Linked DNA regions of Homo sapiens. The protein of the gene in region 1 interacts with the protein of each later gene in a pairwise test. Each region holds a gene or a part of one and is shown in the gene's direction. Other genes may lie near its edges.

Region 1 (3,500 bases):
TAGAGTCTTAGTGTTTGAGGACTTCAGGATAGAAACTGACTTAAGTGCATGAGGGAGTCGGGGAAAGACTCAGAAGGGGTGGCAATGGAGGTGGAGCCTTGAGCTGGACCTTGAAGAAGGTCATCAGGTGGGAAGGAAGGAGAATCCTTGGCAGAGACAGTGGAGAGAGTTGGAGAATGAAAGTGCATGGGGGGAACAGTAGGAATAAGGATGACTGCAGAGTGGTGTGTTGCAGGGTGCCAGTGAAGCTGAAGCCCTACTTCAAGAGAAACCTGTGTGCATGTGCACAGGGAGATGTACCCACAAATGTTCGTAGAAGACTGTAATAGCAAAAAACAACTGGAGATAACCCAGATCTCCATAAATGGGAGAATGGACAATTCAGCTTTGGTATTGCAGCAATGAAAATGAAGGAGCTGCAGGTCTGTGCATCAACACAGATGAATCTCAGAAATATAACATTAAGGGGAAAAAGAAAAACCAAGTCATAAAAGAATACACAGACTTATTCTTCTGTATGAAGTTCAAAAACAAAGTAAACAGCAAATGATCTGTGGGTACTGTTGTATATAGTTATACTGTTTAAAAAGGTGGGGAAGAAGCACAGAATTGGGGATAATAGTTTCCTCCAGCAGTGGATTGAATTGAGGAAGGTCCCCCAGGACTTCAAAGGTCCTAGTTATGTTCTTTTTCTTAAACCAGGCAATGAATTCAGGGTGTAAACCTATAATCTTACCCTGGTCATAAATATTTAGTATTTTATAAAGATAGTTTTAAAAATTTTTGAAAAGCAGATGATATGGAGCTGAGGCTGGAATAATTAATTGGGGCCAAGCAGTGAAGGGCCTGAACACCAAGTTGAGCAGCTTGGATTTCACCATGTTCCCTCTGCTTCCTCTCCTTGAAGGCTGGAGCAGAGCTGCATGTGTTAGATGAGGGAGGATACTCACAGGCTCAGCCCAAACCAGAAATGAGGAATAGCAGGCTCTTCTCCCCTTTTCTCATAGCCCAGAAGCTATACCTTTTCTTTACCAGATATTTGTTTATTAGTATTTATTTACTTATTGTCCTGCTTTAAGTTTATAGTGTGTTCCGTACTTTCTTACATACTCTCAGATTTGACCCTGAAAATAGCCATCTGTGGAATTAGTATTGCCCTATTTTATTGGTGAGGAAATTGAGGTCCAAAAGTTAGGTAGGTCACACAAGATCTTCCAGCTACCAAGAGGCAGTGCCAAGGCTAGAACCTGGGTTGCTTTTTATCATTTATATATTTTTATGTGCATGCAAAAATGTTTTTATATCAGGATTCCCCAACTTCTTGATGAAAAACTGTTGAATTGCCCAGAAGCTATTAATTGGGGGAAGTCATTAATCAGGAAGGATGATTTACAGCAGGGGAGGAAATCTCTGGGAGAGAGGATTGTAGTCAGTTTGGAAGGGACGATGCTGAAGAGACCTCACTGATCTCAGTTGGGTGCTGCTCCATGGTTTTTTTCCTCTTCTGAATTTGTATCTAGTGCCTTCTGCTGGGGATGTGGAGAAAGCCAGAGTTCTGAAGGAAGAAGGCAATGAGCTTGTAAAGAAGGGAAACCATAAGAAAGCTATTGAGAAGTACAGTGAAAGCCTCTTGTGTAGTAACCTGGAATCTGCCACGTACAGCAACAGGTATCTCCTATACAGCTGCTGGCCTGGGGCATTTCAGGACATTTGTTCCATAGTCTTCTCTTGGACTGCAATGGGCCCTTCATCCCTAGCATTTAGTCAAGTATGTTATGGCTGAAAACATGCATCCACGTTGTGAGCTAGCCATGACCAGTGGCATTCATTCTCTCAAAAGGGTAGAAACTGAGGGATGCCAAATGGTAGCCTGGGCTTTGTTGGCCCCTGTCCCCAGAATTTTCATAAGCATGCAATGTAACTAAAAGCAGTGTGCCTGCTCTGCAAACACAACCCTAACACAAGTCTCTTAGCCTGTCCACCCCACCACGCTACGCTGCTCCCTACCCTTCTCCAAGACCCTCCTGTTAGAAATTCTGGCACCATTTCTGTCTGAGAGTACTGGCCCAGAAGCCAAAATGTGAAGTAACCATTGCCTGGCATGAGAGCAGGAAGGATGGGTACAGTCTAGCCTGAAAGGTTAGACTTGTGGGCCTGTAGAAAGTCCTGCACCAGGAGCTGCCGTCAGTGACCACTGACTGAGAACCTGGGAGCCAGGGTGCGGTCCCTTCACTGTGTAGGAGTGATTGTTCTCCAACAATGCTCGTATAGGTGGTCTTTCTGTTTTAGTGTTTAGAAAATTGAGGCTCAGAGAAGGAAGGGTTTTGCTTTAAACTCAGCCAGCCAGTAAATGTTGGCACAAGAATTGGAATCTGACTTCAACAAGATCTTCCTGTTACTTTTACTCTCAGAAGCTTGAAACATTCAGCAAGAGACCATATCAAAACCAAATGCTTAGTATAAAACATTATAAAATGTTAGAAATCTGTTTATCCTTCCCTACCAGCATACACATATCACTCTCTAGTTCAAAAATCTTGGATCTAATATAGACACATTGTTCCTTATTCCAAACTCTTGAGATAAAATGTGTTTTCCAGCCACGGTGGCTCAATGCCTGTAATCCCAACACTTTGGGAGGCTGAGGCTCCGGGAGGATCACTTGAGGTCAGGAGTTTGAGACCAGCCTGGCCAACACGGCAAAACCCCATCTCTACTAAAAATACAAAAAATCAGCTGGGCGCTGTGGCACATGCCTGTGATCTCAGCTACTCAGGAGGCTGAGGCAGGAGAATCACTTGAACCCAGGAGGCAGAGGTTACAGTGAGCCAAGATTGTGCCACTGCACTCCAGCCTGGGTGACAGAGCGAGACTCTGTCACAAAAAAAAAAGAAGTGTTTTCCATTTTAGTGAGGTAATATGGTCTGAATTATGTAACACCCCAGCAGTGTCTGGGGCAGCTTGCAGAAGTTAATTATTAGTATTTCTGCCAGTGAAACTTGAAAATTCCATGTTCACATGGGGTGGAATAGAGAAACTAAATAGCTTCATGTCAGTTCAGATCAGGTTTTGCTGCCCAATGAGTTGGAAAGAGAACTTGTAGTTTTAAAGCTTATATTTTGGAATTTTGCACCTGTGGTTTTATGTGGTTTTATTGCTGATTGGACCAGAGGGGCCACAATTTGCCAGGCTAATTTGAAAAAGAAGCCTGCAGCCTATTTGTTCCATATTTGTGTGGCATCTTCTAACTCCTCTATCTCTGGACCCTCTTTCACATTGCTTACCTTATGCTGCTGGACACCTCCATTAACTCATTTTTCTGGATCATTACCATATTTGGAGCTGTGTTTTGTCTTGTTTAGATACTGTTCTTCATGCAGGTGTCTGTGCCACACTGTTTTAATTGCTTTTGCTTTATAATATCTTATAGGGCTGGTCTTTTCTTCATTCTTCTTAATCAGAGCATTCCTAGTATTTTCCCATGTTTGTTCTTCTAGCTA
Region 2 (3,500 bases), on another chromosome or scaffold:
TAGCAGAGGGTGGAGATCAATCAATAGTGTATAAGTGGTATGTGAGTGTTTTAGGGTGGTTATGGGGAAGATACTTTCTATAATATTTATTTTTGTTTTGTTTTGAGATTGGGTTATGAGACTGGCTAATTTTTGTATTTTTGAGTTTCACCACATTGCCCAGGCTGGTTTTGAACTCCTGGCCTCAAACAATCCTCCTGCCTCGGCCTCCCAAAGTGCCAGGATTACAGGCGTGAGCTATCGCACCCTGCCAGGAAGGCACTTTCTGGTAACATTTGAGAAGTCACACAAAGCCAGATGGAACATAGTTTCCAGGGTAAAGGAATTGAACGCCAGCTTAACCAATTCAATAGCAAACCTAGAAAGGAGTTTTCTCTATCTCACACTAGCAGAAGAATCCTTAAAGTTATATCCATGTAGCACACCTCTGACTGAAAACATAAGCAATCCACGAACTTTAAAATCATTCTTTGTTCTTTTCTTACTGCTAATGTTTTGAATATTGTTCATTCTCTGCTTTCAGAGGCCCTCCTCTAGCAGTAATGACTTTTCTCCCTTTTTGGAAAAAGGACAGTTATCAAAACATACTTAATTGTGACATCTCACTCTTGGTCTCATTTAATGTTAAAACTATCCAGTGGGTCCCTGTAGGTTTATTTCTGAAGAGTCTGCTAAATAAAGTCTTTCTCTTTTTCTGCAGCACTACAGTTATCCAAAATGTCAATAAAGCGCAAGTGAAGATTCGAGCGAAGAAAGATAATGTAGCAGGTAACGTTTCAACCTTTTAGAAACCCTTTGGGGAGAAAAGAGGTGACATTTTAAAATTAACCTGTTTATACAGCAAGATCTTAATGTCCTAGTTTCTTCCTTCTACTTAGAACAAGTTGATTGGCTTTACATGTTAAAATCATTAACAACCAGGTTTCTAATTACTCAGGATAACTTGACTTTTGTATAGAAGTGAACACTTAAGAAGGCAGGTTCCGGCTGGGCACGGTGGCTCATGCCTGTAATCCCAGCACTTTGGGAGGCCGAGGTGGGCGAATCACAAGGTCAGGAGTTCGAGACCAGCCTGGCCAACATGGTGAAACCCCATCTCTACTAATAATACAAAAATTAGCCAGGTTTGGTGGCACGCGCCTGTAGCCCCAGCTACTTGGGAGGCTGAGGCAGGAGAATCGCTTGAACCCGGGAAGCGGAGGTTCCAGTGAGCCGAGATTGCACCACTGCACTCCAGCCTGGGTGACAGAGCAAGACTCTGTCTAAAAATAAAAAATAAAAAAATAAAGAAGTCAGGTTCCACTGGATGTGGTGGCTCACACCTGTAATCCCAGCACTTTGGGAGGCTGAGGTGGGCGGATCACAAGGTCAGGAGTTCGAGACCAGCCTGGCCAACATGGTGAAACCCCATCTTTACCAAAGAATACAAAAATTAGGCCGGGTGTGATGGCTCACACCTGTAATCCCAGTGCTTTGGGAAGCCAAGGTGGGCGGATCGCCTGAGGTCGGGAGTTCGAGACCAGCCTAATATGGAGAAATCCTGTCTCTACTAAAAATACAAAATAAGCCAGACGTGGTAGCGCATGCCTGTAATCCCAGCTACTTGAGAGGCTGAGGCAGGAGACTCACTTGGACCCAGGAGGCAGAGGTTGTGGTGAGCCGAGATTGCGCCATTGTACTCCAGCCCAGGCAACAAGAGCGAAACTCATCTTTAAAAAAAAAAAAAAATTAGCTGGGCATGGCATGTGCCTGTTGTCCCAGCTACTCAGGAGGCTGAGGTGGGAGAATCACTTGACCCCAGGAGGCGGTGGTTGCAGTGAGCTGAAGACCACACCACTGCACTGCAGCCTGGGCGACAGAGTGAGACTCTGTCTCAAAAAAAAAAAAAGAAGGCAAGTTCCTAAATTCATTAATTGAAACCAATTACAATTCCATACTTAAGCTCTTGATTTTTGAGTTTGATGAAAAAGAAACACAGAAAACAGTGATTAAGAAACAGAATTTAGGCCAGGCGCGGTGGCTCATACCTGTAATCCCAGCACTTTGGGAGGTTTAGGCGGGTGGATCACCTGAGGTCGGAAGTTCAAGACCAACCTTACCAACATGGAGAAACCCCGTGTCTACTAAAAATACAAAATTAGCCGGGTGTGGTGGTGCATGCCTGTAATCCCACCTATTCAGGAGGCTGACCAGGAGAATTGCTTGAACCTGGGAGGCAGAGGTTGCGGTGAGGCGAGATCACGCCATTGCATTCCAGCCTCGGCGACAAGAGCAAAACTCCGTCTCAGAAAAAAAAAAAAAAGAGAGAACTTAAAGGTTTATGAATCCATGTATGCTTCTGTGTTTAACAGGTGTTACTTTGCCAGTATTTGAACATTACCATGAAGGAACTGACAGTAAGTGTGAAACTTTTTGTATTACTTTGTGTCTCTGGGATTTCCTGTTTCCTCTTTAAATGAACTAAGTTCTGGAAAATGGTGCTAGATGTTGAGAGGTTCCTGAGTTAGAAATCCTCTTATTTGATATAGTCAGGACAATAGTTGATCAGTTAATCAAAAGGTCTTAAGGCCGGGCACAATGGCTCATGCCTGTAATACTGGCACTTTGGGAGGCTGAGGCAGGCAAATCTCCATCTCTACAAAAAATATAAAAAATCAGCCAGGTGTGGTGGCACGTGCCTGTAGTTTCAGCTACTTCCAGGGCTGAGGAGGGAGGATTGCTTGAGCTGGGGAGGTAGTTGCAGCGAGTTCTGATCACGCCACTGCACTCCAGCCTGGGCTACAGAGCAAAACCTTGTCTCAAAAAAGAAAAAGGTCTTATGCTAGGAAGTCATAAAACATTATACATATCTTAAAATATTTCAATATTTTATCAGAAATATATCAATGTAGAATCACTTGCTATTTAAAAAATATAAGGCCTTTTGAATATGAATTCACTGATTAGACTTCTGTGTTGTTTTTCTGCATATCCTACACCCACAATGCACTGCTTATAATTCCCAGTTTGGGTCTCTTTAAAGTCAAATAAGATCTTAGACACTGATGCAACCTGAATGCTGATTCTTTCTAGATTTTTATAGCCCACTTCCACTTTTTAAATAACTGTCTTATTCATTCCATTCCTAGTTTGACAGCATATTTTCTTTCCAAAGTAAAGTATTAACTTTTTTCATAGAAACAATATTCTTGGCCAGGCACAGTGGCTCACACCTGCAATCCCAGCACTTTGGGAGGCTGAGGCAGGTGGATCACCTTAGCCCAGGAGTTTGAGACCAGCCTGGGCAACATGGTGAAACCCCGTCTCCACCCAAAAAGTTACAAAAATTAGCTGGGCCTGGTGGCATGCGCCTGTGGTCCCAGCTACTCGGGAGGCCGAGGTGGGAGGATTGCTTGAGCCTGAGAAGTGGAGCTTACAGTGAGCTGAGATCGCACCACTGCACTCCAGCCTGGGTGGCAGAGTGAGACCCCATCTCAATAAATAAATAAACAAATAATATT

The links. The genes of interacting proteins can lie anywhere in the genome.
Region 2: the proteins of TOMM34 (region 1) and ATP6V1D interact in a two-hybrid assay, tested with the Homo sapiens proteins (one study listed by BioGRID).

What each region holds. Positions count from the first base shown.
Region 1 is NC_000020.11:44,946,898-44,950,397, reverse strand, and holds part of TOMM34 (mitochondrial import receptor subunit TOM34), read left to right. Parts: intron 1-1,520; coding exon 1,521-1,668; intron 1,669-3,500. UniProt on the Homo sapiens protein: Plays a role in the import of cytosolically synthesized preproteins into mitochondria. Binds the mature portion of precursor proteins. Interacts with cellular components, and possesses weak ATPase activity.
Region 2 is NC_000014.9:67,346,305-67,349,804, reverse strand, and holds part of ATP6V1D (V-type proton ATPase subunit D), read left to right. Parts: intron 1-700; coding exon 701-768; intron 769-2,351; coding exon 2,352-2,396; intron 2,397-3,500. UniProt on the Homo sapiens protein: Subunit of the V1 complex of vacuolar(H+)-ATPase (V-ATPase), a multisubunit enzyme composed of a peripheral complex (V1) that hydrolyzes ATP and a membrane integral complex (V0) that translocates protons.